Homo sapiens: one gene and its partner. The protein of the gene in region 2 purifies or fractionates together with the protein of the main gene of each other region. This does not show direct contact. Each region holds a gene or a part of one and is shown on either strand. Other genes may lie near its edges. The genes, in order: ARHGEF2 and ANKRD28.

Evidence for each region.
Region 1: the proteins of ANKRD28 (region 2) and ARHGEF2 purify together in Homo sapiens (affinity purification with mass spectrometry; 3 studies listed by BioGRID and IntAct, with this or other methods). This does not show direct contact.

Annotation. Positions count from the first base shown.
Region 1 is NC_000001.11:155,945,548-155,961,547, forward strand, and holds the end of ARHGEF2 (rho guanine nucleotide exchange factor 2), read right to left. Parts: intron 12,850-16,000; coding exon 12,773-12,849; intron 12,336-12,772; coding exon 12,166-12,335; intron 9,423-12,165; coding exon 9,355-9,422; intron 7,282-9,354; coding exon 7,081-7,281; intron 6,689-7,080; coding exon 6,569-6,688; intron 6,440-6,568; coding exon 6,372-6,439; intron 6,230-6,371; coding exon 6,194-6,229; intron 5,987-6,193; coding exon 5,936-5,986; intron 5,790-5,935; exon of another isoform or gene 5,726-5,789; coding exon 5,282-5,725; intron 4,936-5,281; coding exon 4,752-4,935; coding exon of another isoform or gene 4,722-4,751; intron 2,469-4,721; coding exon 2,395-2,468; 3' UTR 1,307-2,394; downstream 1-1,306. UniProt on the Homo sapiens protein: Activates Rho-GTPases by promoting the exchange of GDP for GTP.
Region 2 is NC_000003.12:15,790,122-15,806,230, forward strand, and holds the start of ANKRD28 (serine/threonine-protein phosphatase 6 regulatory ankyrin repeat subunit A), read right to left. Parts: upstream 7,859-16,109; 5' UTR 6,401-7,858; coding exon 6,284-6,400; coding exon of another isoform or gene 6,275-6,283; intron 5,186-6,274; coding exon 5,102-5,185; intron 1-5,101. UniProt on the Homo sapiens protein: Regulatory subunit of protein phosphatase 6 (PP6) that may be involved in the recognition of phosphoprotein substrates. Involved in the PP6-mediated dephosphorylation of NFKBIE opposing its degradation in response to TNF-alpha.

The DNA of each region.
Region 1 (16,000 bases), on a different chromosome or scaffold from region 2:
CCACCTAAAGGTGCCACCCTCACAGCTCTGGGTCGGAGATACTTCCAGCTGACCTGGAAGACAGCTGCTGAGCCCTGTGTCCCTGTGTGTGAAATGTGAAGCCCTGGTGTTTTTTTTTTTTTCTTTTCTCCAGGCAGGGTCTTGCTCTGTCACCCAGGCTGGAGTGCTGGAGTGCAGTGGCACAATCTCGGCTCACTGCAACCTCTGCCTCCCGGGTTCAAGCAATTCTCCCACCTCAGCCTCCCAGGTAGCTGGGAATACAGGTGCCCGCCATCACGCCCGGCTAATTTTTGTATTTTTAGTAGAGATGGGGTTTCACCATGTTGGCCAGGCTGGTCTCGAACTCCTGGCCTCAAGTGATCCACCCAACTCAGCTTCCCAAAGTGCTGGGATTATAGGCGTGAGCCACTGCACCCAGCCAGCCCTGGTATTTTTAGGCAGAGTAGCCAAGAGAGAAAAGTGGTGGACTGGAACTAAGAAGGCCGGCCCCCTCCTGGCCTGGCAAGCTTCGTGCACCTAGGTTTCCCGGCCCATAAAATGAGAACAATTCCCCATTCTCAGGATCCCCGTAATGGCTGAGAAAGCACCTTGTAAAGGCTTGATGCTGGTGGATGAGAGTTACAGAAGGGGAGGGTGCTGGCTGCTCCCCCAGCCTGCTCCCCATGTGACTTCAATTCCTCTTTCTAGCTGAGGGCCTGAGCCCCCTTCTCCTGATCTGACCCCACAGGCTCCAACAGGGATGTGAATTCATACCAGCATTTATACAACCCTAGACTCTCACCTCCTCCCCTCCCCCACAGCCCCAAAGTAAGTACCAACTGGGAACAGGAAGTAAAACCAACTAAAACCAAGAACTGAAACCAGCTCATCTCTCACTGCCTCTCAAAGAGGGACAGTAAATGAGCAGCTCCTGTGACGGGTAACCCCAGGGCCCGACATCATGGAGATCAACAAGGGCCTAGTGGGGGATGGATCTGACAATGAATGACACTGGGGATGGGGGCAATAGGTGGAGGTGATTGCTGAGCATGGCATACAAATACGATGAACACACTTTTCCTGATACCGGAATTCCCAACATTGGAACCTGTGTGCCCCTTTGTTTTTATCCTTGTATTTGTGAATTAAAAAAACAAAAAAAAGATTTGCAGTGGTTACTTTTGTTAGTGCCCCCTCTCTTCAGTGAGGCAGAGGCTGTCCTTGCGGTGAGAGGAAAAGGCCCCTTTCAGAGGAACTTAGGTCACTGCCCGGCTCTCTACTACCATCCTCCTCAGAATTGGCAGACATTATGGAAGACAGTACCTTATGGAGTTCCAGGTTTTTAATTTTCCCTGAATTTTTTTTTTAAACAACAAAATTGGCAAGAAGAAAATTCTTCGACATTTGGGGGCTGGTCGACATTTGGGGGCAAGGGTTCCACTGAAAAATCCCCCAAATTCACGCTGAGGTTTCAGGTCATGGTTGCTGAGGTGGAAGATGAGGTCAGGGCTCTTGGAGATTTTCCAACCCACCCTAGAACTTGTTTCTAAATGGCTGGGGAAGAGGTCAGTATAGGTCCCCCCGTTACTGCAGATGAAGGCAGAAGTCATTCTCTCCCCCACCCCTCAACTTCTTCAGAGATGTGGAGATAGGAGGCTTCGATCTCTAATTGCCTACGATCTCTTAAAAATATAAAACACGTGCAGTTGACTTTGGTACAAAAAAGAAAACAAAAGAACAACAAAACATTCTGGTCCCTGTGGGTTTTTTCCCTCACCCCCAACAAACCATTATGGCCACCCCAACCTTTATTCCATCAACTCCAGGAAGCCAGGTTATCTCCCAGGGCTTCCATGAAGGACGGAGAAAGGGAGAACAGCAGTAAGAGGTTGAGGGGAGAGGAGAAAGGGACATGGCCCTGCCCACAGCCCTCCTTTATTTAAAGGGCAGTAGGGTGCTGTGGCTGCAGCCTCTCCTCCAAGACGGATGTTGCAGGGGAGGGCCGTTAGGGCAAGAACCCAGCAGCTGCGTGGATGAGCCTGAATATACCCCAGTAGTGTTCAAGGACAAGGCCCTCTGATCCCTATGGCTTGGTTCCCATGTCCCTGGTCCTTTAAATCTCCCCTCTCCCCCCATAACTAATAAACAATAAATAAATAAATTTTCCTAAAGTTGCGGGAAGAAGGCATGAACCACTGGCATCTGTGGTGTAGCTTTCGGATGTCCCAGGGGGTGTTGTGGCCTAATTCCCCTAGCTTCTTAAATGGCCCCAGGTATCCAAGGATCCCAAGAGCTGGCAAGGACAATTTGCAGTTCTTTCAAATGTTCCCTCATCATTGGCAAATTGGAGTCCCCAAGGTTAGCCCCCTCAGTAATGTTCTTCAGTGGGGCACGGGGCAGGGGGGAGGGGCCCCCTTAGCTCTCGGAGGCTACAGCCTCCCCGTCGCGGCTCTCCGTCTCCTCCGGGATGTCCTGCATTCTGGTAAAGTCTGAAGGGGGACAGGACAAAGCCAGTGAGTTAGCAGAGACTCCCATGAGGAACTGTACCCCTAGACTAATGCCTCCCCATCTGCAGGCTCAGGGGGCTCTGGGGCTGTGAAGGGATGACAGGGTTCTGTAAATTCTTGGGTGAGAGGAAAACCTTTGGCAACAAAGTAAGCAAGGTATCCATACCTAGGTACCGGATACACTTTTACAGTATCCAAAGATACAATTTGATTAGGAAAATACAAAATACTTTAAGGTTAAAGCTTTTGGTAATTTTTTATTTCATGAACCAACTGTAAAAACTTGAAGTTCTTTGAAACTTTTTTTACTTTAAAAACTGGCCCCATGGCTCGTGCTTATAATCCTAACACTTTGGGAGGCTAAGGTGGGAGAATCACTTAAGGCCAGGAGTTGGAGACCAGCCTGGCCAACATGGTGAAACCCCATCTCTACTAAAAATGCCAAAAATTAGCTATATGTGGTGGCATGCGCCTGTAATCCCAGCTACTCGGGAGGCTGAGGAACAAGAATTGCTTGAACTTGGGAGGTGGAAGTTGCAGTGAGCTGAGATTGTGCCACTACACTCCAGCCTGGGTGACAGAGCAAAACTGTCTCAAAAAAAACAAAACAAAACAAAACAAAAAACTATACCTTCCCAGGCACAGTGGTATGTACCTGTAGCCCCAGCTACTTGGGAGGATCACTTAAGCCCAGGAGTTTGAGTCCAGCCTCGGCAACAGCACAAGACCCTCTCTCTAACATAAAAAATTTTAGAGTGAGATCCTCTGTCTGGGTCTCCGGGTCTCTTTCTGTCGCCCAGGCTGGAGCAATCACGGAGTACTGTCAACTCAACCTGCTGGGCTCAAGTGATCCTCTCACCTCACTCTCACTCTCCGTAGCTAGGACTACAGGCTCACTCCACCACACCTGGCTAATTAAAAAAATTTTGGGGGACCAGGCACGGTGGCTCACACCTGTAATCCCAGCACTTTGGGAGGCCAATGTGGGTGAATCACCTGAGGCCAGGAGTTCGAGACCAGCCTGGCCAACATGGTGAAACCCCATCTCTACTAAAAAATACAAAAAAAATTAGCCAGGTGTGGTAGTGCATGCCTGTAAATCCCAGCTACTCGAGAGGCTGAGGCAGGAGAATCACTTGAACTCAGGAGGTGGAGGTTGCAGTGAGCTGAGATTGTGCCACTGCACTCCAGCCTGGGTGACAGAGTGAGACTCCATCTTAAATAAATAAATAAATAAAATAAAATAAAATAAAATAAAATAAAATAGACCGGGTGCAGTGGCTCACATCTGTAATCCCAGCACTTTGGGAGGCCAAGGCAGGCGGATCATGAGGTCAAGAGATTGAGACCAGACTGGGCAACATGGTGAAACCCTATCTCTTCTAAAAATACAAAAATTAGCTGGGCGTGGAGGCATGTGCCTGTAGTCCCAGCTACTCGGGAGTCTGAGGCAGGAGAATCACTTGGACCTGGGAGGCGGAGGTTGCAGTAAGCGGAGATCTCACTACTGTACTCCAGCCTGGCGACAGAGTGAGAATTCCATCTCAAAAAAAAAAAAAATTTAGCCAGGCGTGGTGGCTCATGCCTGTAATCCCGACACTCTGGGAGGCCAAGACAGGTGGATCGCGAGGTCAGCCGTTCAAGACCAACCTGGCCAACATAGTGAAACCCCATTTCTACTAAAAATACAAAAATTAGCTGGGCGTGGCGGTGGGCGCCTGTAATCCTAGCTACTTGGGAGGCTGAGGCAGGAGAATCGCTTGAACCTGGAAGGCAGAGGTTGCAGTGAGCCAAGATCACGCCACTGCACTCCAGCCCAGGCAACAGTGCAAGACTCCATCTCAAAAAATAATAATGAAATAAATTAATTAAATAAAATAAAAAAATAAATAAATGAATTTTTTTTTGTAGAGAAGGTGGGTCTCACTATGTTGCCCAGGCTGGCCTCAAAATTCTGAGCTCAAGCGATCCTCCTGCCTTGGCCTCCCAAAGTGTTAGGATTACAGGCCTGAGCCGCCATGCCTTTTTAAAAAAGAATCTGTTTTTACTTCTAAAGGTTGGGAATCACCAACCAGTTGGAGGAGAGAGGCCCCTCCTGCTTCCTAGACTTCCACCACCCATTCATCATCAGACAAAACAGGAAGTCCCTCCCTAGAGTTACTACAAGCCTCACAGGTCAGTTAGGGCCCATTTGGAAGCCACAGCCCAATGGCCTGTACCCAGGCTGCACTCTACCTCTGGTCCATGTCTCCGCCAGGGTCTCACCTCGTGGACTGTGGGGCGGAGACAGACGGCTGCTACCTTCCTCCTCGCTGCCAGTGTCAGGGTCACTGCTGTCTTGCAGCCGCTCTTCGGGGCTCCCCAGTTCCTGCCTCTCTCGGTCCTCAAAGTTTCGATGGACAGAGCGAGTAGTGACAGGTAGATCCAGGCGGTCAGTGCCTCGGCTGGGCTGTGGACAGTGGGCAGGAAGAACAGCAGGTCAGGGACTGAGTAGTGTGAAGATTGGAGGTTCTGCTTGGCTGAAGGCAGCAGCTCTCCCCCCTGGGGCTCACCCATGAGTCCCCTTCAGGAGATCCACCACCAACTGGCCTCTTTCAGCACCACGACCCGAGTTAATTTCCTCCACCCCTGCACCCATCTACATTTCTTTTCAGTTCTCCAACCAGTATCTCAATATCCTTCAAGTCAGTTGACTGATTGCATTTGGGCTCAAATCCCCAATGGCCCAATTTCTTTCGGGCTCCATGGACCCTTATGTCCACCCCAGGTCCATTCACCACTGCAGGCCACCTTACCTGTGGGGGGTTGAAACTCAAGTACAGGGCATCGCCTGCGGGGAGGCTGCGCCGCCGAGGATCCACAGGTCTGCGGGCCCAGGGGGCCTCAGCTGGGAGTGGCTCGGTCTGGCCCAGGGCGGCCAGCTGCCTTCGAGCCTCTTCGGCCTCACGCTCCAGCAGTGCCCGGGCCTGCTCACTCTCCCGGAGCCGGGCCTCCAGGCTGCCAGCTTCGGTTGCCCGTTCTTCACCTAGCCGCCGGCAGCGCCGTAGCTCCTCCTGCAGCAGCGCATGTTGCCGCTGCAGTAATGCCAGTTCCGTGGCCTGCTTTTCAGGGGCCACAGGGGCAGCCCCAGCCCTGCCAGCCTCCCCATCCCGAGAGTTGGCTCGGCACAGCTTCTCCCGCCGCTCAGGGCCCTCAGGGAACCGGGCTTCCATCAGAGTGTCCTGCTGGGCCACAGCTGCCTGGGAGTAGAATGCAGGCAGAAGGGTTTATCAGAACCCCTGTGCTCTTCTACCCCTCGCCTTCACCCTCCAAGGCCCAGATCATCGCTCCTGGAGAGCTTGGATTGGGAGGGTATTTAGAAAGGCCTGTTGGGATGACCATGCCCCACCTAAACAGGCATCTCTAGCCTGGCTCCTCCCCTTCCCCATTCAAGCCCTTGTCCTACTGACCTGTAGGCCATGTAGAAGTCCATAGAGATTGACCAATCGCTGTAACGCCTCCTGAGGACAGACAGGGTGGGAACAGGGCCCCAGCTTTAGGATGGGAGAACTGCCCAAAAGTTGAACAAGGGTGGGTGTGGGGACAGTAGGATCCGGAGACATACTTGAATGTAGACGCTTTCCCCACCCCACTCCAAACTGGGCTCTAACTACTCAGACTAAGAACATCCTCCCTTCAGTCTCCTATACCATCAATTCCCATCTCACCTCTTGCGGTGATCTCAGCTGATTTCCATTTCGATCCTGCAGAAATGGGCAAGAATGGGGAGTCAGCAGGCACACAAATCCTGGGTGCCTGCCCCTGACAGCTTTGTGTTGAGGATCCAGAGGCTGGCTGTCCCTCTCCCACCCTCTTGCCAAGTCCCAGAACCTCTTGAGGACCTACCCTCTGGCTAGAGTCTGAGTCAGCTCTGCAGAGTTCAATGGAGCCATTGAAGGTTCTGGCCTCACCATCTGTTGAGAAGGAGAAAAGGATGGCTGAGCTCACTTCCCTGGGGCCCTGATACCACTTGATCCCTGGTACCACTCTACTAACTTTGGCCCCTCCCACCTACTACCTTGGTCCCCTGCCCTGGTACTCACTGGCAGTGACCCCAGGACTCGTGTTACCACCGCTGTCTGGTTCCAAGGGCAGGGCTGGCTCTCGGGGTGTCAAGAGCAGTTCCACTCCTGGCCCCACCAGCAGGTCTTTCAGACCCTCCACTGTGGGGAAAGAGGAAGAGGTGAGAACAGGAATGACACAGGACCCTGAGGGGAATGCCATTCACCCCCACATGTGGGACACTTGGGCATCTGGGGGAATGCCCCCTGCACTGGCAGTGGGGTTTCACTCACACAACCACTGATGAGGTAAAGGGCAGTAAATGCCTACGAGGCAGCAGAGTCCATGCAGCATGGACGATATGGAGCAGCAGCAAGGACCACACCTCCTCCCCTGCCTTTCCCAGGAACTGGCCCAGAAGAGGCACTCAGGGCCGTTTATGGTTTATAGGGTTGGCATCCCACTTGTCTGTGTTTGTCCATGTCTAGTCACATGTCCACATTCTGTGACGGTGAGTGCTTGAGCCTGGACTCTTCCCTGGGAGCTCCCTCACCCTCACGGATGGCATCCTGCAGCAGCCGCTCGCCACGAGGGGACTCAAGGGACTCAGAGCGGAAAAGGCCCCTGGGCAGGGTGGGCAGGGCCATCCCACTGCCACCATCCTCTTCGGCCTGGAAATGGGTCATCTCAGCAAACAGCCCGACCTTCTCTCGCAGCAGCTCCACCAGTGCCCGGTCCTTCTGCTGCAACTCCACTGCAGATAAGGAACAAGTGAGGACATGAGAGGACGTAGGGGTATGCAAGAGCGCCAGTAGAGGACAGCCCTAGGGGAGAGGGGTAGGGTGGGGCAGTGTGGCAGACTTAATTTTGTTATTTTGGCATTTATAAAAAAGAAAAAGCTTTCTGTTGGTCAGGTGTAGTGGCTCACACCTGTAATCCCAGCACTTTGGGAGGCCAAGGCAGGTGGATCGCTTGAGGCCAGGAGTTCAAGACCAGCCTGGCTAACATGGCAAAACCCTGTCTCTACTTAAAATACAAAAATTAGCCAGGTGTGGTGGCACGCGCCTGTAGTCCCAGCTACTCAGGAGGCTGAGGCACAAGAATCGCTTGAACCCAGGAGGCAGAGGTTGCAGTGAGGCCGAGATCACACCACTGCACTCCAGCCTGGGCGACACAGCAAGACTCTGTCTCAAAAAAAAAAAAAAAAGATTTGTGGAAGGGGTTGCAGGTTGTCCAACAGTGTTCATTCTTTCCATCTTCCTTTAATGAGAAAATGCATAGAAGTTTCATCTGGGCACACATGGCTGCCCAGTTAACAACTATGTTTTCCAGCCTGACTTGCACGTGACTATATTGCTACATGACTACATTCTGGCCAATGGATATGAGCATCTTCCAGATCTGCTCTTAAAAGAAATGGGTATAGGCTGGGCATGGCAGGTGGATCACTTGAGGCCAGGAGTTCGAGACCAGCCTGGCCAACATGGTGAAACCCTATCTCTACTAAAAATACAAAAATTAGCCAGGAGTGGTGGTGGATGCCTGTAATCCCAGCTCCTTGGGAGGCTGAGGCAGGAGAATCACTTGAACGTGGGAGATGGAGGTTGCAGTGAGTCGAGATCACGCCACGCCACTGCACTCCACCCTGGGCGACAGAGCAAGACCCTGTCTCAAAAAAAAAAAAAAAAAAAAGAAAGAAAGAAAAAGAAAAAAGGGTATAAACTCTATTCCTTTACTCCTCCTTGCTAGGTGTGATACAGGTGTGACAGTGGGAGCTGGAGTAGCCACTTCAGACATGACATAGAGATGAAAACTTCATGTTAAAGATGGCAGAGCTGCACCACTACTCTGCACTTCCCACTTTGAACTGTTATGTTGACAGCAATAATATTCTACCTTGTTGGGGTTTTTTTTGTTGTTGTTGTTACCCAGACTGGAGTGCAGTGGTGCAATTATAGTGTATTACAGCCTTGAACTCCTGGGCTCAAACAATCCGCCCACCTCAGCCTCCCGAGTAGCCAGGACTACAGGTGTGTACCATCATGCCTAGCTATTTTTTTTTTTTTAATTTTTTGTAGAGACAGGGTCTTGCTATGTATGTTTTGTTGCCCAGACTGGTCTCGAACTCCTGACCTCAAGAGATCCTCCTGTCTCCCAAATCCTTCTGGGATTAAAGGCGTGAGCCACTGCATCCAGCCAATCTACTTCTTTTTTTTTTTTTTTTTTTGAGATGGAGTCTCCCTCTGTTGCCCAGGCTGGAGTGCAGTGGCGTGATCTCAGCTCACTGCAAGCTCCGCCTCCCAGGTTCATGCCATTCTCCTACCTCACTCTCCTGAGTAGCTGGGACTACAGGCACCCGCCACCACCCCCGACTAATTTTTTTTTTGTATTTTTTAGTAGAGACGGGGTTTCACCGTGTTAGCCAGGATGGTCTCAATCTCCTGACCTCGTGATCCGCCCACCTCGGCCTCCCAAAGTGCTGGGATTACAGGCGTGAGCCACCGCGCCCGGCCAATCTACTTCCTTTTTTAAGGAAGAAGATTTTTGTGGTCTTTTAGTATAGCAGTTAAATCATACCCTAACTAATATAAGGCCTTACAGTGAAAAAGTAAGTTACTCACCCAACCTTGGTCTTCCATATTATTTTTACACACATGGTAGTATACACTTTACATTGTTTTAAACCTTGCTTTTTTCACTTAATATGTTTCAGTTGTGGATCTACACCAGCCCTCATAGAGCCATCTCATCTTTTTAACAGTTGCATAATATTCCATTGTGTGAATGTATTATAAATTACTAAGGAGCTCCTTGTGGGTGGACTTACTCTTAATTCGCCGCAGGTAAGCCTCATCCTCTGTCTCAATCAGGGGGAAGTCCTCCCTGGATGGGCATCTGGAGGGGTAACAGGTCGCATGCCATTGAGAGACAGAAGCTAGGTTATAGACCAGAATCAGCCTTCCCTCCTTCCCAAACATGCCTTATGCTTCCATCTTCTGATAAGACTCCTCAGCCTCACACCCTAGCTTTAATTTAGTCCTGACCTTCTCCCTTTTCTTTCTTTTTTTTTTGAGACGGAGTCTTACTCTGTCACCCAGGCTGGAGTGCAAGGGCGCTATCTCAGCTCACTACAACCTCCTCCTGGGTTCAAGTGATTCACTTGTCTCAGCCTCCTGAGTAGCTAGGATTACAGGCACGCACCACCATGCCTGGCTAATTTTTGTATTTTTAGTAGACATGGGGTTTCGTCACGTTGGCCAGGCTGGTCTCAAACTCCTGACCTCAGGTGATCCTCCGCCTCCCAAAGTGCTGGGATTACAGGCATGAGCCACCGCGCCCGGCCGACCTTCTCCCATTTCTTAGCACTGATTATCTGCGTTTACTGAGATATATCTCTCCAAAGGTCGCTTGGAAAGGCAGCACAGTGCAGAGGGTCAAGTACAGGCTTTGGCATCAAGCAAACAGGATGCAAATCCTGGCTCCACTGTTTACCAGGTGGTAACCTCTCTATTTCCTCATTTGAAAAATGAAGGTAATATCTTCCTCATAGGTTTTTCATTAGGATTAAATGAAATGTTAAAGTGCTTTGAACATAACAGAAGCTCAACAAATCAATTACAATTAATATTATTAATTTCCACAATTATAATTTTTTTTTTGAGAGAGAGTCTTGCACTTTCGCCCAGGCTGGAGTCCAGTGACAGGATCTTGGCTCACTGCAACCTCTGCCTCCCAGGTTCAGGTGATTCTCCTGCCTCAGTCTCCCAAGCAGCTGGGACTACAGGCACGCACCACCATGCCTGGCTAAGTTTTATATTTTTAGTAGAGACAGGGTTTCGCCATGTTGGCCAGGCTGGTCTCGAACTCCAGTGGTCCGCCTGTCTCAGCCTCCCAAAGTGCTGGGATTCCAGGTGTGAGCCACAGCGCCTGGCCACAATTATAAATATTAATACTATTAATAAAGAAGCCACTACAGATCTGTCAACAGGACAGGTTATTTTGAACTGCTTTCTTGGAATAGGCAATTTCATAATTTTTTTTTGGAGATGGAGTCTCACTCTGTCACCTAGGCTGGAGTGCAGTGGCACAATCCTGACTCACTGCAACCTCCACCCCCGGGTTCAAGCGATTCTCCTGCCTCAGCTTCCCGCGTAACTGGGATTACAAGCTTATGCCACCACGCCCGGCTAATTTTTGTATTTTTAGTAGAGACGAGGTTTCACCATATTGGCCGGGCTGGTCTTGAACTCCTGACCTCAAGTGATCTACCCGCCTCAGCCTCTCAAAGTGCCGGGATTACAGGCGTGAGCCACTGTGCCTGGCCTGCAATTTCATACTTTTATATGCATTTCTAAAAACCTTTTCAAAATTCCATGGTGCAGAAGTTAAAAAAAAAAAAAGGTTTACAAATTATAAAGTTGAGAACTGATTCCCTGAAAGCTAAAGAAAAATTATAAAAATCTTGGCTGGGCATGGTGGCTAATGCCTGTAATCTCAGCTCTTTTGGAGGCTGAGGTGGGCGGATAAATCTGAGATCAGGAGTTCGAGACCAGCTTGGTCAACATGGCAAAACCCCGTCTCCACTAAAAATACAAAAATTTGGCTGGGTGCAGTGGCTCATGCCTGTAATCCCAGGACTTTGGGAGGCTGAGGCGGGTCGATTACGAGGTCAAGATATCAAGACCATCCTGGCCAACATGGTAAAACCCCGTCTCTACTAAAAATACAAAAATTAGCTGGGCATGGTGGCGTGAGCCTGTAGTCCCAGCTACTCAGGAGGCTGAGGCAGCCCGGCAACAGAGACTCTGTCTCCAAAAAAAAAAAAAAAAAAAAAAAATTTGCCTGGGGTCGTGGTGGGCACCTGTAGTCCCAGCTATTTGGGAGGCTGAGGCAGGAGAATCGCTTGAATCCAGGAGGTGGAGGTTGCAGTGAGCTGAGAGCGAGACTCTGTCTCAAAAAAAATTAAAAAAAAAAAAGAAAGAAAACCTGTAAAAATCTGAATTAGAATTACACTTACACTTCATTCTTTAGGCATAATCTTCCAGAATCCATTTTAAACATCTTACCTGTGCTTTATTTGATGTTTTTTCCCATCACAATTAGACACATAGTTGACTGCCTCAAATCTAATGTGTGTCCAATAGAAGCTAAAGATTTGCTGCTTTGACACACTGATTTCCTTCTTGCTTCTATTGTGTTGAGTCTGTTTATGAGACTTGTTCCTCTCTAGTATCGATGCTTTCATTATCCTCTTTTTCATTCATTTTTAGAAAAATAAATGTAAAATACAATACAATCCAAATAACAGCCCTCTGCCTACAGATGAACATGTGAATGCAGCTGAAATTGTACTGTTGGCTGGCAGGTATGCCACCATGTGACAGCTCAAAGTATTCCCTTGCTTGTCAGCTCATGCTGAATTTGAAAGGGAGTTGAGGTTGGCAATGTATAAAATGTGGCTTTACAGGACATAAGAACATAGGTGACCTTTCCAGTCTTGGGCCATTTTGTCTCTCCCTCAACCTCTTCCCCCACCTCTGAATGCTGGATTCTGTTCCCAGGGAGTTCTATGGTTGGGATCTAATGCTGCAGGTACCCTGAGGTCATAAGCACATGCAGGCGGCAGGCAGACACTCACGTGCGCACGCTCTGCTGAATGACCCGGATCCAGGTGCTCCGGTCATCCCGGGATGCTGTGTGCACCTCGTACATCTCAGGTGGGGCTGCGCTGATCAGAAACATCCCTTTCTCCTGGTTGGCAATGTCTCGTACGATTAGATTCTGCAGCGATACCACTGAAGGCTTGTCCTGCCAGTCAGGGGAAAGGAAGGATTAAGCCTGGGAATCCTGTCCCTTGGCATATTTAGGCCTTCAATCCTTCTGGACGAGGACTGAAAGGACTGAAGAGTCATCTTACAATACCAGTTAAGAGCCAGGCACTGGTGCCAGCCAGAAGGGACTTAGAAATGTGTGCAACCCTTGACAAATTATTTAACTGACTTGAAGCTTTACTTTCATCATCTATAAAATGAGGACGAAAATAATCTTTTCCCACAGGTGTAAAAGTGCCTGTGCACAGTAACAGTACCTGTGAGCTGCTCTTATTTTTTATTATTACGGTAATAGTAACAATTATAGCTGTTTGACTCTGGGGGACTCCAGAGCTCTCGTGGGCTTGGGCAGGAAAGCAAGAAGAGACTAAAACACTTGTCTGTGCTGAGAAAGGTGAAGAATGAATGTCTCACCAGGGTAGGAAAGATGTACTTCTGGTCCTTTTCCTGGAGAAACACCAGTACATCTGTCATCAGCAGCACTAGCACATCTGGAAGGGGATGAAGGTGGGAGAACAGTCAGCACTAGACGGTCTGAGCAGCTGCTTCCCTCTTTCCCAAGGACCAGGCTTATCCCATCAGGTTAGAGCTCCCAGTTTCCCTCTTCCTGGCCTCTCTTCCCTCTGGCTGCTTGCACTTTTTCAGACCTCTCACACCTCACCCATTCTATTTTTTTTTTTTTTTTTTGATACAGAGTTTTCATCTTGTTGTTCAGGCTGGAGTGCAATGGTGCAATCTTGGCTCACTGCAACCTCCGCCTCCCGGGTTCAAGCGATTCTCCTACCTCAGCCTCCCAAGGAGCTGGGACTACTACAGGCGTGTGCCACCATGCCCGGCTAATTTTGTATTTTTAGTAGAGACGGGGTTTCACCATGTTGGTCAGGCTGGTCTCAAACTCCTGACCTCAGGTTTATCCACCAGTTTCGGCCTCCCAAAGTGCTGGGATTACAGATATGAGCCACCGCGCCTGGTCACACATTCTTACAGCTTAAAAACAGTGTGGGTGGGGGGTGGGGGGCGGGCAGGGTGCAGAAAGATTCATGTGCTATCAGACAAAACAGCGTTGTGGGCTAGCAGGAACCACAGGGATCACTCAGTGTCTACAGAAAACCCTTTCTACCTGACTGATTCAGGTTTCTTAACCTAGGGCCTACAGACCCCCTGGGATGTCAGGCTTCAGTGGCTCTGTAAACCTTCTGAAGGTGTGTAAATAGTTTTACATATTAACATAACTCGTGTATTTTTTTGGGTGACAGGGTCCAAGATTTTTGTGAGATTCATAAGGTTCCCCAGAGCAAGAGGGACCATACTTTTATTTTTTATTTATTTTTAATTTAATTTGATTCTATTATTATTTTTTTGAGACGGAGTCTCACTCTGTCGCCTAGGCTGGAGTGCAGTGGTGCCATCTTGGCTCACTGCAACTTCTGTCTCCCAGGAAAAAGCGATTCTCCTGCCTCAGCCTCCTGAGCAGCTGGGATTAAGGAGCACGCCACAACACCTGGCTAATTTTTTGCATTTTTGTAGAGACGGGGTTTCACCACGTTGGCCAGGCTGGTCTCTAACTCCTGACCTCAAGTAATCTGCCTGCCTTGGCCTGCCGAAGTGCTGGGATTACAGGCATCAGCCACTGCGCCTGGCCTATTTTTTATTTTTTGGGACCAAGTATCGCTCTGTCGCCCTGGCTGGAGGGCAGTGGTGTGATCTCTGCTCACTGTGACCTCTGCCTCCTGAGTTCAAGCGATTCTCATGCCTCAGCCTCCCAAGTAGCTGTGGCTACAGGTGAATGCTGCCATGCCTGGCTAATTTTTGTATTTTTAGTAGAGATGGGGTTTCACCATCTTGGCCAGGCTGGTCTCGAATTCCGGACCTCAGGCGATCTGCCTGCCTGATTCAGCCTCCCAAAGTGCTGAGATTATAGGGATGAGCCACCGTGCCCAGCCTGGACCACATTTTTTAGCCTTTAAATTCCATTTCTAATATCTAACTAAGGAAGACCTTTACGGCTATCTGACCTAAATTCTCCCTGTCCTGGCATATTCCCACTTCTAATTTTGAGCTTGGTAGGGAGGGAGAAAGTTTCCTTCCTCTCGCAGAGGACTGAAAGACCATCCCTCACCCACCCATCTCCTTCAACCCCAGCAGGCCCCTGCTTCAATTTCTTTCTCTGCTTCACACTCCAAGCTCTCAGATCCTATGGGGTCAGCACTCCAAGACTGAGGGAGGAAACAAAGATCAATTCCATAAAACTTGGATGTCACAATCAAGAAAACAGAGGGCGAGGCATAGTGGCTCACATTTACAATCCCAGCACTTTGGGAGGCTGAGGCAGGAGAATCACTTGAGGCCAGGAGTCTGAGCAAGACTAGCCTAGGCAACATAGCAAGATCTTATCTCTACAAAAAATTTAAAAATGTGCTGGGTGTGGTGGTGCAGGTCTGTAGTCCCAGTTACTCAGGAGTCTAAGGCAGAAGGATCACTTGAGCCCAGGAGTTTGAGTTACAGTGAGCTATGACTGCACCACTGCACCCCAGCCTGAGCAGCAAAGCGAGACCCTGTTTCTAAAAAAAAAAAAAAAGAGAGAGAAAACATACACTCCTCCTTTGCCCTTGGGGATTTTACTAAACTGTGGGCACACAGAAGGGGAGGGCTTTTGCTAAATGCTTCAGAAATAACACTCTCCAGCCTTGCTATTTTTAATCCCCCATGGTTTATATTCTTAGCTGCTGCGTGGGAGAGATGGGAAGGAGAGAAAGGGATAAAGGAAAGAGGCTGGTGAAGACTGACAATATCCAAACCCAGGGAGCAGGGATTTCATGACACAGGTACAGAGGCTCAGGCAGGCTTTGGCCTCAGGTATCACAGTTTCCTATTGTCCCTCACATCTCATCCCCAAAGCCAAGGCCTGCTATTCTCTTGCTTTGATTTAGGTGAGAAAGACTTTGCCAGTGCAGACAAATTCTGGAAAGAGAGCCTGGGAAAGTGTGCCCTGGCCCCTGATCTGCTCCCTCTGCCCTGCTGTCTCTTCTCCTCCCTGCCTGTCCTTCACCGGCTCAGTCCCCTCCTCTGGGCCTCCTCTGGCTGCGCTCCCCAAAGCTCTTGCTTACTCCCATCCCTGGTAGCTGGGATTCCAGCTGGGGGAATCAACTGATCCTGTCCTCCAGTCTGAGAGCTTCTTTGTCTTCCTCAGTAAAACTAGTAGCTCTCTAGGCATGCAAGGACCAAAGAAATTATAAAATACTGATAGGGAAGGCCCTGTATGGTCCATAAAGTTAACTGCAGAATTCAGGCTTTTCTGCCACAGAGATCCTATTTTTCTCTCCCACTGAGTCTCACTGTTGTATGGGCTGCATAAAGGGAGGTTGATTCTTTTTTTTTTTTTTTTTTGAGATGGAGTCTTGCTGTGTCACCCAGGCTAGAGTGCAGTGGTGCAATCTGGGCTCACTGCAAGCTCCGCCTCCTGGGTTCACGCCATTCTCCTGCCTCAGCCTCCTGAGTAGCTGGGACTATAGGCGCCCACCACCACGCCCGGCGAATTTTTTGTATTTTCAGTAGAGACAGGGTTTCACTGTGTTAGCCAGGATGGTCTCAATCTCCTGACCTCGTGATCCGCCCGCCTCGGCCTCCCTAAGTGCTGGGATT
Region 2 (16,109 bases):
CAGTAACAAGTAATGAGATCAAAGCTGTAATAAAAAGTCTTCTAGTAATGAAAAGGCCAGGACATAATGGCTTCACTGCTGAATTCTACCAAACATTTAAAGAAGAACTAATACCAATCCTACTCAAAATATTCTAAAAAATAGAGGAGGGAATACTTCCAAATTCATTCAAGGCCAGTATTACCCTGATACCAAAACCAGACAAAGACACATCAAAAAAAGAAAACTACAGGCCAGTATCGCTGATGAGTATTAATGCAGAAATCCTCAACAAAATACTAGCACAACTGAATTCAACAATATATTAGAAAGATCATTCATCATGATCAAGTGGGATTTATCTGTGGGATGCAAGGATGGTTCAAAACACAAAATCAATTAACATGATATATCATATCAAAAAAATAAAGAATAACCATATGATCATTTCAACTGATGTTGAAAAAACATTTGATTAAAAAATTCAATATCCCTTCATGATAAAAACCCTCAAAAAACTGGATATGGAAGGAACATATCTCAACATAATAAAAGCCATATATGACAGACCCACAGCTAGTATCATGCTGAATGAGGAAAAACTGAAAATCTTTCCTCTAAGACCTGCAACACAAGGATGCCCACTGTCACCACTGTTATTTAACATAGTACTGGAAGTCCTATCTAGCTCAATCAGACAAGAGAAAGATATCAAAGGCATACAAATTGGGAAGGAAGAAGTCAAATTATACCTGTTTGTTGGTGATATAATCTTATATTTGGAAAAACCTAAACATTCCACAAGAAAACTAGAACTGATAAATTCAGTAAAGTTCCAGAATACAAAATCAATGTACAAACATCACTAGCATTTCTATATGCCAACAGTGAACAATGTGAAAAAGAAACTAAAAAGTAATCCTGTTTACAATAGCCATACATAAAATTAAATACTTAGGAATTAACCAAAGAAGTAAAAGATCTCTATAATGGAAACAATAAAACACGAATGAAGAAAATTGAAGAGGACACCAAAAAATGGAAAAATATTCCATGTTCATGGATTGGGATGAATCAACACTGTTAAAATGTCCTGGCAATCTATAGATTCAATGCAATCCCAATCAAAATACCAATGGAATTCTTCACAGGAATAGAAAAAATACTAAAATTTATATGGAACCAGAAAAGACCCAGAATAGCCAAAGCCACCCTAAGCAAAAAGAACAAAACTGGTGGAATCCCATTATCTAACTTCAAATTATGCTACAGACCTATCGTAACCAAAACAGCATGGTACTGTCACAAAAACAGACACGTGTACCAATAGAACAGAACAGAGAACCCAAAACCAAATCCAAACACCTACAGCAAACTCATTTTTGACAAAGGTGCCAAGAACATACACTGGGAAAAGACAAGTCTCTTTAATAAATGGTGCTGGGAAACTGGATAAACACATGCAAAATCATGAAACCAGACCCCTATCTCTTGCCATATACAAAATTCAAATCAAAATGCATTAAATACTTCAAACTGAATCTAATACAAGAAAACACTGGGGAAAATCTCCAGGACATTAGTCTGAGCAAATATTTCTTGAGCAATAGCCCACAAGCACAGGCAACCAAAGCAAACATGGACAAATGGGATCACATCAAGTTAAAAAGCTTCTGCACAGCAAAGGAAGTAATCAACAAAGTGAAGAGACAACCCACAGAACGAGAGAAAACATTTGCAAACTACCCCTCTGACAGGGGACTAATAACCAGAATATAAGGAGCTCAAACAACTCTACAGGAAAAAACCTAATAATCTGATAAAAAATGGGCAAAAGATCTGAATAGACATTCCTCAAAAGAAGACACACAAATGGTGAAAAGGTTCTCAACATCACTAATCATCAGATATCCAAAACTCAATGAGATATCATCTTGTCCCAGTTAAAATGCCTTTTATCCAAAAGTCAGGCAGTAACAAATGCTGGTGAGGATGTAAAGAAAAGGGAACCCTTGTTCACCATTGGTGGGAATGTACAACCACTACGGAGAACAGTTTGGAGGTCCCCCAAAAAACTAAAAATAGAGCTACCATATGATCGAGCAATTCCACTGCTGGGTATATATCCAAAATAAAGGAAATCAGTGTATCGAAGAGATCTGCACTCCTATGTTTGTTGCAGCACTGTTTACAATAGCTAACATTTGGAGGCAACCTAAGTGTCCATCAACAGATGAATGGATAATGAAAATGTGGTACATACACACAATGGAGTACTCGTCAGCCATAAAAAAACAGACCCAGTCATTTGCAACAACAGGGATAGAATTGGAGATCATTATGTTAACCGAAATAAGGCAGGCACAGAAAAACAAACATCACATGTTCTCACTTACTTGTGGGATCTGAACATCAAATCAACTGAATTCATGGACATAACAGAAGGATGGTTACCAGAGGCTGGGAAGGGTAATGGGGGGTTGAGTGGGAGGTGGGGATGGTTAATGGGTACAAAAAAATAGAATAAGACCTACTATTTGATAGCACAATAGGGTGACTATAGTCAATAATAACTTAATTGTATATTTTAAAATAACTTAAATAATGTAATTGGAATGTTTGTAACTCAAAGGATAAATGCTTGAGGGGATGAATACCTAATTCTTCATGATATGATTATTTCACATTACATGCCTGTACCAAAACATCCCATGTACCCCATAAATATAGACACCTATTATGTACCCACAAATTTTTTTTAAAACCCACTAAAATAAGAAGAAAAATCTATTAGGTGTGTTACTAAGAAACGTGCTGTTTAGTGGTCTACAATATTCAAAACCTCAGGGTGTGACTAAAGAAACTCATCTAAAATTATACAATGACTATTTAATGGTAGAGAAATAAATCTGAACTTATATCCATTCTAAAAATGAATAAAAACAACTTCAAAAAACTTAAGAGAAACCTGAGTTTCAAAAAGTCCAACGTTATTCTCCAAATACTTATTTAAATAAATTTACTTTGGAAAAACACGACTGTCACACTGACATAAAGCTTAAAAATATTTTATTACCTATTAAAAGTCAGTGCATTTAACACCCATTGCCTTTTAAAACCCCATATGATTCCTTATCAGACAAAATCAGATGATATTTACCATCTTAAATTCAAATAATGGCCAAAAAGTTAACAAATCTTGACTTTAAGGCAACACTCTCAACTACTAAGAAAGGGTCACGAGAGAAAAGGCCTAAAAGCAATCATAAAAGTTGTTGTCAAAAACCTTTGTATCACTGAAGACAATTGTCAAAGAGTTACTCTCAAGAAAGGCCTACTGATGAGTGAGCTGATGCTCTCAATGACTCTGAATTTTTTTTTAATTTAGGATAAATTGATTAAATATAACATAAAAGTAATGTCAGCTACAATAAACTTTGTAATGATGGAGAAATTAGCCCTGGTAAATGGAATTATAGTTCAAACTTTCTAATCAAGGTAGTATTTGTCAGTACTATTAAAATAAAACCAAAATAACAAGAAAACCTTAGGAGTTAAATGGAAAACATGTTTTCCACCTTTTCATGCGTCTATACCCCTTGAGCTATTTTCTAAGAAACGCATACTCTTCAGTATACCCTGGGTAAAGTAGCCAGACACTTCATTTAAAACAAATAAATCATGGCCCGGCACAGTGCCTCACGCCTGTAATCCCAGCACTTTGGGAGGCCAAGGCGGGCCGATCACCTGAGATCAGGAGTTTGAGACCAGCCTGGCCAACATGGTGAATGAAACCCTGTCTCTACTAAAAACACAAAAATTAATCGGGCGTGGTGGCAGGTGCCTGTAATCCCAGCTACTTGGGAGGTTGAGGCAGGAGAATCGCTTGAACCCGGGAGGCAGAGGTTGCAGTGAGCGGAGATCATGCCACTACACTCCAGCCTGGGCAACAGAGCCAGACTCTGTCTCTAAATAAATACATACATACATACATACATAAATCCTGAATTAGGTGCATGTTTCCAACTAAATATAAACTTGAAGGCAATTCACTTAGAAAAAATTTTAAAAAATATATAATGATAGCATTCTGTTCATTACCCAATGTTAAAATTAACAACAGTTTTAGCCAATGATTCAAATCTATTCAGATAATTCATTATTTTAAAAATAAGGTAAAACTTTTTTGTATCTACCTAACATTAAGTGGTCACAGCAGTATTATATTAAAAAAAAAAGGAGGAAAGATGAGAGTTAAAAATGAGCTTGCAATGGGTGCTTTCTTAAAACCACAATCATTTCTAGGTCATCTGTTTTGGTGTTGCCACAGCGACTTTGTGAATCATATGACTTTTCACCCCCTCCATAACTCAGGGGTACATTTGTTTCTGGTAAAAATATATACATTAGTGGATGTAATTTTGTTAGAGTACGTAATGTACTTTCAGCCACAACTTAGTAAACTAAATACTGGCCACTGAAAAAACATAACAGAGAGAGAAAATTATCCATATATCCACCTTTCTAAAACTGTCCATCATGTCAGCACTGAATATACTACTGTATCGTTAAGTCTGAAAACTTTTCCAACAATGACTTTACTGAAAACCTAATCTGACAAAAATTAATCAAGCACCATTGTAAAACACTCACCATGATTATTTACAAAAAGCAAATCTGATCTTATATTTAGATATACACTTACAAGAATCCTCATTTGAAATGCACAGTTAAGTATTTAATGGTGAAGTATCATGATTTCTGCAACTTACTACATATATATGTAAAAGTTGTATATTAATAAATACAGAAAGCAAATGTGGCAAAATGTTATCAATGCCAAAAGTAAGTGAAAGGTATATGGGTAGTCAGCATGTTTTTTTAACTTCCCTATGTTTGAAAAATTTCAAAGTAAAAAGCTGGGAGAACAAAAGACCCCTACTGGCTGCTACTGCCCTGAGTATATGTCCAGTGTTTTCCCTTTTGCCTCAATACCTTCCTGCCCTCATTTAAAACAACTGTTACAGAGTTATATTATGTCTTGTAAACAAAAATCACAATTCTAGGAAAGAATTTTAAAAAGCAGTTTTAAAGGCTGGCATCAGTGAATTAACTGTTTTACCTGAAAGTTAACATCTTCTTTCTTAAATATTAGTGCTCGAACTTCATCAGGATCTCCGTTAAATATAGCTTGCACCAGTGATGGCTAAAATAGAAGAGAGTAATAAAAACATTAGAATCATCCATGTGGGGTGACTAAGGATATTTTACATAGTTCTGGAATCTACAAGTTTTCTTCCCTGTAGCAATAATCACTTTTGACATTAGCCAGAAGTTTCATAAAACCAAATCATGTCAAAGTACAGGATTCCTACTTGGAAAAAAAAGGCCTAATTAAAAAAAAAAATCAATTCAGTTTGACCCAATTTAGGTAGTATAATAAACAAAATCAGATTTTATTTCTTGTAAGTAGAAGCCTTTTGTTTCTGTATATGACAAAAAGAAAGACTCTTCCAAATACAAATGTGTGATCTCAACATCTACTTGTGGGACAGAACTTTTTAAGCAATTTCCAGCCCATGAAGGAAGGCTTTTTTGAAAAGGTCTGTTTGGGGCATCAAATTATCTTACATGGATTAGCATTACATGTATAAAGATACAAATCCCAAGAAAGCAAACCTGGCAGTTGATGAAAATAGCCACTAATCAAAGACCAAAAAATACTGGATACTTAAATAACTTGAAAAGACAAACACATGCATAACTAAATATAATAATTTCTTAATCAACGATACAGCCTCTTGATAAGGTATACTATACTAGTCAAGGAGCCAGCTGACAGTAGCACTAAAACCAAGGTTAAAGATGAAGACTGAATCTCATATAAAGTCTTATATGTAAATACATAAAATTCATTACAGAAAAGGCCATGCCTTAGTGTTGCTGGGGGTAGTCAACCTTTCCTAAAATATGCAGAGTTCCTGATTCTTGTTACATCAGTTTCTGAAACCACAAAATGAAAACAGAAACGTGGTTGCCATAACTACTAATTCTCAAATTATTTTTAAACAGTCTTTTAAAGAGATTAAGACATAGTAAAGACTGAAATGTTATCTCAGCATTCAAAAAAGTAAAAACGAAAAATGTGCATTTTATACAAAAATACTGCATCATATCTACACACGTATTGCTTTAATTTGGGTTTGTAAAGAAACTATTGGAAATTTACATCTATTCTTAAAAAACAAGATTTATACTACTAGTTCAGTAGAATATAGTAAACATATAAACTTACATATCTTACCAATACATTTCCAGAAGGTGGAGAATGTAGGGATTTATTTTCCTGTGGCAATTTAGAAATGAATGCAGGAGATTCATCTTCTACCTCCTCCAAAACAACAATACACACTCGACTCATTCGATCTTTTAAAACACTAAATTCCAAGCTATGTGATAAAAGTCACAGTTGGAAGAGCACAAGTAGTTTTTCCTCCTCTTCTGTACAACACTTACAAACATTCTCTGAACAGCACAGCTGGGTTTTTTTTTTTTTTAAAGTTAATAAGTACTACTGGAAAAACAAGTTTAAAATTATGACTACATAATTTGTAACTTCCTAAATATAACGAAATTCTATTATTTCTGTTGGATTACTGCAATACTTAAGAAGAAATTTCACACCAACATGTCAATAACTAAAACTGAGTCCAAGCTCATTTAAAAATATTTTTCCTCTACCAAAATAGTCTTATTGCTCTATCTCTGAAATTTACTTGCACAAAACAATCATTGTTTTTGGTGACACAACACCACACAATATAGAATGAAATGAGAAACAACTGCTGTGACAGAGATGATCACAGCGATACCCACTCTTGCCTGCAAGGTCATATAGTTACCAGTAGCTGTTTTGCTTATAATTGAAAATAAAAAATAAAATCTCACTATTCTGTTTCCACTTCTAATTTGTCTTCATTTCTTCATCACTGGTTTAATGCAGATACTATTCACAGAAAAAAGATCTAGAGCTCAGCACAAATCCTGAAAATGAAGCTCAGAGGTTAACAATTCTTTCAGTGTTTGGGAAAGGGGCAAAAAACAAAAACAAAAAAAAAAAAACCACTCTGCATTAATAGCAAAGCTGCAGTACGTTTACATGTGATGAGTCAGACCACAAGAGACAATACGACTCTTGGTACTAGAATACAGCTTGATTAATCCAGGTTTCCCATATAATAGAAGAAACACAGTTAGCTTTATTCCCATCGATAGCATAAGCAAGGCAGAGCGTTCATTCTTTCTCCATCAGGCAGTTGTCTGTGGCTGCTCCAGCAAAAGGGCACAGGCACCAGGCAGAAATGGTGTTAGTGGAGAATCCTAGTAGAACAAGCAGGCTGTGAAGGAATTAGAAGGCATTTGAGCTCAAATTACTGCTTCAGGCTTTTTGTTTTCTTTAAAAAAAAAAAGGGGGGGGAAAAACATAGTAGTGTATCATTCCAGTGTTTCCTTTGATCTCCACATGAATACAGCTTCCATTAAACAGTCTTCATTCAGAGAAAAAAATAGCAGACTGTGCATCTTCTTTGAGCCAACTACTTTATTCAGTCATCTGCCTCTTTGCCAATATAGTTTCCTTCCACTGTGAAAACCGCCACAGTTATCCTTTTCAGATTTCAAATGCTTTCCTGTTCCTCAGATGATCTTGCAAAACACCACTGACATCCCCAAATGAGTAGGTCCTTAAAAAATATCTATAGAACCTCAGTATCAGTCCCACAGAAGCATTCCAACGGAGCAACAGTCTGAAGAGCAAAGACTGCAGACCCACAGGATGAAATGCCTAGTAATGCTCACATGTTACACTTACCAGAGATCTGAGCTACTTCTCGGGATGTAACTTCCTCTAGCAGGAGAAAAAAATAGTGCATTTGGACAGCCTTCACAATTAGAAGGTTCATGCCAGTTCTGTGACTAATCCAAATCAAACTAAAAAATTCTATAACTGAAAAATGAGTGCGCTTTTAACATTTTCCACTAAAAGCCACAAGGAAATCTGGTGTACTGCCTCTGCTGACTAACAGTGGTTTTAGCAAGTAAACAATTCCAAACGGCTTAACTGCTTTCGTGTGTTACAATAAAGCAAATGTTTAACCCTATAATGACAGTTGCAGTAAGAATATGCCTGCAATGGACTCATAAAAAAGGTTTAAAGATGGAGAAATATTTTATTAGATTATAAAAACCATGAAATTGTTTTATTCATATTTTTACCAAGATCAGTTTTAATCTGCCAGGTGTATTTTATTTTCTAGAATGCAAAGCTTAAACAAATGAAATTTAAGATTGTCTAACAATTTCTAAATTGGTGAATTTAATCAATCATTGATTCATATTTTAAAGGGAAAAGCAAAAATTTCATAATGTAGAAATCCTAACTCTAAAATTATATAAATCATTTGATTTTTCACTGAAGAAATAAAATAATCCTACCTTCCCATTTGGATAGGGAATAAAGCCTTAAAAATCTGTTAAAGAGGTACATGAAAAAAAAAATGTCCTTCGTCCTGAATTACCTATGTCAAAAGGGCACAGGGTAATACAAATAATCTCCCTCCCTATAAATTTCCCAAAGCCATAAATAAATGTCAAAGCCAATCATTTCATCGTTTTTTTTCTTCTTTCTCTGTTTACCCAACATGGGGGATATTTCTCAAGAGAAAACTTACAAAGAAAATACCATGGTCCCCCTTCAATCTGTGTTCTTCATATTAACTAGCATTTTTATTAATAAACAATAATAAACATAATAGTTACTTTTGAACATCTGTGATATGCTATGTGCTGTACATTCTCATTTAATACAATAACCTTGCTGTATTCCCATTATAGAGGGAAAAACAGACTCAGAAATGATGTATTTTACCCAAAGTTGTATAAATTAATAAAGTTGTGTGTTATTTTAAACACATACTCTTTCTAATCTATTCTGCTATCACTGAGTACACACACATACAGACACACTCTCTTCTCTCCACTCATCTCCAGATCTTTGCAACCTGTAATACTAGCTTATAAAAGTGATCTTAACAAACAGGTAACCTATAAAGGTTGTGAAAAGTTTAGGTAACAAAGGAATATACTATTTATTGCTATATTCTAAAACGAGTTATTTTTAAATGGGTACTTCAAAGCAAGTCTTAAAACCATAAAAAGGAAAAAAAAAACAAAAAATCCCAGCATGATACAAATATAAGAATGTCAGAATTTAAAACAAGAACCATTGAAAGCTATAAAATGTATCAATCTATGGAAGAAGCAATAACTCTAACATATTTGTACCAATTAAAACATGCTAACAATTCATTAGTTATATTTTAAAATATATAAAATACTTTTATGCCAAATTAAAGGTATGTAAATATTGAACATACATCAATTATGTTATCCATCTCCACATAGCTGAATCAAAAAATCTTAATATTTGAAATATCTGAAAGTGAAACAACTATAGTAACAATATCCTATATTTCATCTTCAGGGTTCCCAAGCCCACAAAGCAAAATCTCTTTTTATCTTAACAATCTTAACTTGTTCCAAAGTATCTAGTACCTAAGTTCACCTACTTAGACTTAAGCAGGTACATCCTGTTTCTTGTTCTAAGTCAACCTCCACACTTAGGTCTTTCCCAACCAGAAAACAAACTCCTTGAAGGTAGGGACTGTGTTCATACATATTGTCTCCTTCCACTTTCTTCCACCTATAAATAATTTCATTGAAATGAATTCTGTCGTCACGAGACTCTGGAAGGGTGGAGATTTATAAACAAGAATAGTGGGGGTGTGTTGGTATACATATATTTTAACCAGAAAATATAGGTGGCATTAAGGTGCAACAAAGTGAGTTTCATATCTCTAATAAGTGAACAATTAAAATTTCAGAAGTTGACAGGATATAAAACAAAGGTATGGGGTGATGGTTAAAACTAAGGGCTCAGGAGTCAGCCCACCTGAAGTTCAATTCTGCTTCCATCATTTCCTAGCTGTGTCCTTGGACAAACCACTTAAATTCCCTAAGCCTAAATTTCTTGACACTTATATAAGAAAAAAATAACCTGCAAAGATTTTTGTCTAAGAGAAATAGAGTAACAGTACAGTGCTTGAGAATGTAGGCTATTTTGTGGTCAAATTGCCTGAAGTTCTAATCCAGGCTTCCCACTAACCTAATTCTGGGATCCTGGGCTACTCACTTATTTAGTAACCTCTCTGTGCTCATTTTAACATCTATTAAATGACATTAACAGAATTTACTTCATAGTGTTGTGAAATCTAAACAAGATAACCTTACTGTTATGGATATTTGGGATAGCTGAATGATATCCCTTGTGAAGCCAGTGAGTGGATCAAAGGCTATTAAACTCCTCCTCCTCTTGACCCAGTACAAGTGAGGTAATTCAGATTAATGTCTGGAGATCCCATTCAGTTGCCAAGTCCCCACACTTTTCAGTGATCTCTTGAGAGTCTGCTAAAAGCTCATTTTAGACTCTAGTAACTAGACAAGCACATACTAAGTGTTAATTGGGGAGAGGGAGCAGTAAACTTAGGCAAGAAAGACTACAGGTTCTTCCATTCTTCTACCTTCACTAGATTTTACAGTTTAGGGACTGTAAAATTCCTTTGGGAAAAAGGATAGAAAGTACTAGCCCATGGTATATTATAAAATCAAAAGCAGATAAAAAATACTAAGAGAAATATGTCAGTTTTTAAATTATTTAAATTAGCAGCACTGTTTTGTGTCTTCTTCTATTGAATAAGACAGGCTCCTACCCTCAAGGAACTCACATCTTAAAAGGAGACAAGTGAATATTTAAGAACTTAGAAACAGAGAAAGTACTTCTGATAAAAAACTGCTGATAAAGATTGTGCAAACTGTAAGTTCAACATTTTTTTCCACTTAGAGAAATATCAAGGGGATGTGGTTATTTTCTTTGGTACTTATTTTTTAGGCCATATTAGATTAAGTTTTTAATAAGCTAACAAGTTCAACTCTGACAGCTTTATAATCCTTCTATTCTTTATACTAAAATGTATCCTATTAAGAGCTTACTCCTACTATTAATGGAATCACATAATGGTAAAGCTGGCTTAAACCTTTTTACTGATTATAAAAACATTAAGTCACTGGAAGATAATTTTTGGGTTCCTAATTGTTACACCTGAATTTCTTTTTTTGACACAAACGATTTTTCCTTTCTGCAACAAGATCCAACCTAAACCTCACCTTTTGTCTTACACATCTGTGAACTCCGTATTATCATAGAATAGAATACTCAGGGTATATTAAGTGGCTACTCTGTGGCAAGTAACAAGCTGGTCTCTGAGTATTTGAAAATAAAAAGCTTGTGGTGAAAGATGGTAAGGAAGTGGGTTCAAACAATGTTATAGAAAACATTTCTGACAGATCAAGAATCCTCACCAATCTTCTTGAGCTACGCCTCATCTATCCATATACTTTAGGAAAAAAAAGTCTTATGAACAGAGTTAAAAGAAAATGAGGTAGAGGGTGAGTGGGGAGAAATCAAGGAATAGCTGCTTTCTAGGCTACACAGGCCAGAATCCATGCAATTATCTATGTGATTATTAGAGCCACTGCAAGAAAGTCACTAGGTATTCAAAACACAACTCAAAATCCTCATAATAGATCAGACTTAACTCTCTGCAGGTAATATATTTATGATCCAGGACACTTATTTTTTATGCAGTCATAATGCCAAAATGGCCATTAACCAATATCGTTTGACGATCTCAAGTGGTGTGATCCCACTGGTACGTTACATTCGTAATAATAAATTGTTAACCCTTCCAATATTAATAGTACTGTATACTGCAGATTGTTAGCACATTCTAATATTACATGTGTTTTCTGCAGAGATCTGTATTTTGTGTCCATTCCTCCAGGCTTCCATTTCAGCTTTAGGTAAGTACAGAGCCTCACACAATAAAGACTACATTTCTCAGCTCTCTTGTAGCTAGGAGCCACATGAAAAAGTTTGACCAAAATTTTAAGTAGGTGTTGTGTGCCTTTCAGAAAACTTTCTTAAAGACCAACTAGCATATTCAGCTTGCTTCCTGGAACAAAGATGATTGGCCACTATCTTAAACCAAACAAGGACCATAGTCTAGGGTAGTGAAACTACACTAGAAGGGAGCTGGGTCTTTGAGGACTTTGCCAAACAGAACTGCCATACAAGCCTTGGACTGTCTACTTTCTGACTTTTATGTTAGAGAGAAATAAAAAGTCCTGCCTTGTTTAAGAAACTGTAATTTTGCATCTCTGGTACTTGGAGCTGAGCCTAACTCTAAATGATAATCTTACTCTTCCTTTAATTATCTATGAGTGGACATATATCCTTCGAGCCCTGTTCTTCCAACATCCATACTCCAGTACAATGTGGCTACTTAAATCTTCAATAAATAAAATGAGTTAGAAACTTGAGCTGTAACATATTGTACTAGAAACAATAATCAGAAATCTGCTGGAAAATAATTCATATTTTCCTGGATAAGCTAAGGACAATCAGAGGAGAGAGAAAGAGATGGAAACAGTTACCACAAATATTCTCAATCATCTTCAGCCACCATTTTGGTGGGTACTGTTATCAAATCTCTAAATGAGAAACAGGCTCAGTAACATCTAGTCAGCCAATCACTTATCTGCCCCATCCATTCACCTAGTATACATTCATCTACTATGTGCCAGTCTTTCTGCCAAGCTGAGAAAACAAAATTATGAATAGTCAATCCTTGTTCTAATGAACCATACACACAAATAAATACTATATGACTGCAACTGTGATAAATTCTCGAATAAAAAAAAATGTCTGAAAGACAAGGAACTAATGGGTGGCCCATGTGGCTGGGGAAGCAATCATGAGGGACAATATCACATGCAGTTGGAGAAGTGGGTATGGTCATGTGATAGAGAGGCCTTGTAAACCAAGTTATAAAGTTTGTATTTTTCATCAATTGAGAACTCATTAAAAATTTTTAATTAAGGAAGTCATGATTTGCTTTTGCTTTAAAAACATTATGTGGCTTTGATACGAAGAACGGATTAAAGGGGTAGAAGAATGGAAGTCAAAGGACTAGTTAGGAGACCACTGCAGTAATCCAACAGAGTGGGTGATCTGAATTAGGACATGATCATATAGGTGGAGAGACAGAAATATATTTTAGAGGCCGTGCACGGTGGCTCACACCTGTAATCCCAGCACTTTGGGAGACCAACGTGGGCGGATCATGAGGTCAGGAGTTTGAGACCAGCCTGACCAACATGGTGAAACCCCGTCTCTATTAAAAATACAAAAATTAGCTGGGTGTGGTGGCGCGTGCCTGTAATCCCAGCTACTCAAGAGGCTGAGGCAGGAGAATCGCTTGAACCTGGGAGGTGGAGGCTGTAATGAGCTGAGATCACACCACGGCACTCCAGCCTGGCGACAGAGCGAGACTCCATTTAAAAAAAAAAAAAAAAAGAAATATATTTTAGAAATAGGATTTATAGGACATGTTAATAGACTGGCTACAAGAGTGATGGAGAAGATGATAATCAGAAACCTCCCAGGTTTTTGACTTAAGCAACCAGTGCTTATTGGAGTTTAAGAAATTTGGGACTTTTTTAGTTTCCAAATTTATACAATGAAGAATGTTACTTGTTACATCAATATCTAAGGTGCATTTCATGCTCTCAAACTCTGTTTTAAACTTAATACAGAGCCCATTATCTTAGCATCTACCCTCATGACTTCTAAATGAAATGTTAAATCCCAAAGTTGCCTACATCTAGGTGAATATTAAAAAAATTCATAAAGAATGGTGAGATCTGGCTCAATTCTACTCAATCCAGTACACTGAAATTATCTAAAAGTCTTTTGGCAAGAATACCTTACTTTTTAAAACACTCAACAAAAATACCACAGCACTGATTAAACAATTATTAGACATTCATATCTCTACTATACATACCATGCCAAGGAATTATAAGGTATCATATATCACCTTCAAACTCCTTATGCAACTTAAATAGGGCATTATGTCATACACGTAAAAATCTAACCAGTACAAGATAAAAGACAGTAAAAGACAGTATATACTGAAGGCCGAGATATAGACTATACCTGCTACCAAGTCCATCATAGGAAAGAGTGTAGCATATGAAGTTATTAATTGTAACTGACATATACAGATACCTTCTAACTGTCCATTCTCTAAAAAAATGGATATTTTAATAAAACTCTCCATAAACCTCATTATTTTGCTCCTCCTTTAATTTATAGGAAGGGTGCTTTGTCAAAGAAATCAATGGTCTGCTAGTTAGAACATTCCATGTAAAAACTCTATCACATTTTTCAGAAAATGGTTGAAGATTCAAAACTATCATTTATAATATATAATTGTTAAAAGTGAGTATAAGTGACTGTTGAGCAGTTAAAAGCAATGGCTCACGGTGTCCAGGATAGATAAGAACAAACATACAGAAGCAAAGGTAATTACAGCAAATGAGACAAGTTGTAGGATGTGGTCATTGAGGTGGTTACAGCCAAGTGGAGGTGGTTACAGCCAAGTACAGATGACTGCTGGTGTGGAGGTTGTTAAATAGTTAAGTATGTTCAAAATGTCATCTACAAAGAAATGAAATCACCTAGATGACAGACAAACATGATCCAGATGTGGAACTGGGGTATGAGATGTGACAGATGATAGCAACAAGAAATAGAAGGATCACCTAGCCAAATGGTATGTGCCTCAAAGGAAGGAAGGTTTTTATAGACAGGCAGACTAGTAACATTTTAACACTATAATGGGGGACTAGAAGAATGCTGACTTTGCGCTCTTTCCTCCTCCCAACACACATGTACTTACGTAGCAGGTACTTACGAAAACAGAGTTTCACTGACTTTTCCAAGTAAGTGTAGATTCAACAGTTACACATATGAACTTAAGGTTTAAATCAATATTTAGATGACTATTTTTAGATTTCAGCCTTAAGAGAATTACTTCCTTCCAAAAGAATATAAGTAAAAAATTCAACAGGCCAAACTAACACAGGTTAGTTTTCTAGAATACACCTAATATGCCAAAACTAAGGAACAAAGGGAGAAAAACTACTCTGTTAGCAAGTATGTAGTACTGCATTTAAGTAATGTCTTTAAAAGTTAGGTTATTTTCTTCATAATTTTGATTACCTTGAGAAGCAGTTTGAAATTAAGGAAAAGGACTCATCATTTTAGAGGTCTTTTTTTTAAAGTTGTGATACTTTTTAAAATATCCTAGTCAATCTGATTAGTAAAATTTTTAGCTAAGATATGTGATGAGTAGTATCTCTGACATATGACTTATGTTCTATCAGGCCAAGGATAAACACATTCTCTGAAATCTACATTATTATTTGCAAAGTTAATTATTGTTCAGCAACTGTATCAAAGACAATTTAGCCCTCATATTAAAATCAGTTGAGTGCAAAATTTTTATTTTAAACAGGCTGAATTTTGCCCTTCTTAAAAAAAGATTGAGGAAAGATTATGTGCAATTCATTCTGGTTTTTACAATGTGGTGATGCCAGAGTAAATGTAGTATGAAGTTAATGCACTTTAAAAGCTGAAGGGAGAAAATTTTCAGTTTTAAAATAAGTTGCTATGGTTACAAAATGTTTACCTTTATAAGCAATAATTATGTGAGATGTCCAAGGAATTCCCGAAAGTACAGTAAGATCAGTATCTGAAGTGTACATTCGTTATTTCACAAACAAACTGAACCCAACTGCATACATCACTTCCGTTTCAAAGTGGCTATCGTTTGGGAAATACTAAAAAAAAAATGATTCATGTCTTTCTGAACCATATTGGAGACAAAAATACTGACCATAGCTATTTTTAAATTCAAGTAATGACTCAGAGAGTTTTAGTTCCTTTTATCAAAGAGTGCTGTAATTTTACATAGCACCTTCTATTGTTGAAAGAAGGAAGGTATGTTTGTAATGTGTCTCAGGTGTGGAGTTTCTTTTATACATAAATTTTCACGCCTTCGATAAACTTTTAAAAAGCCATGCTTGTAACAATGTTAATTCAGAGTAAA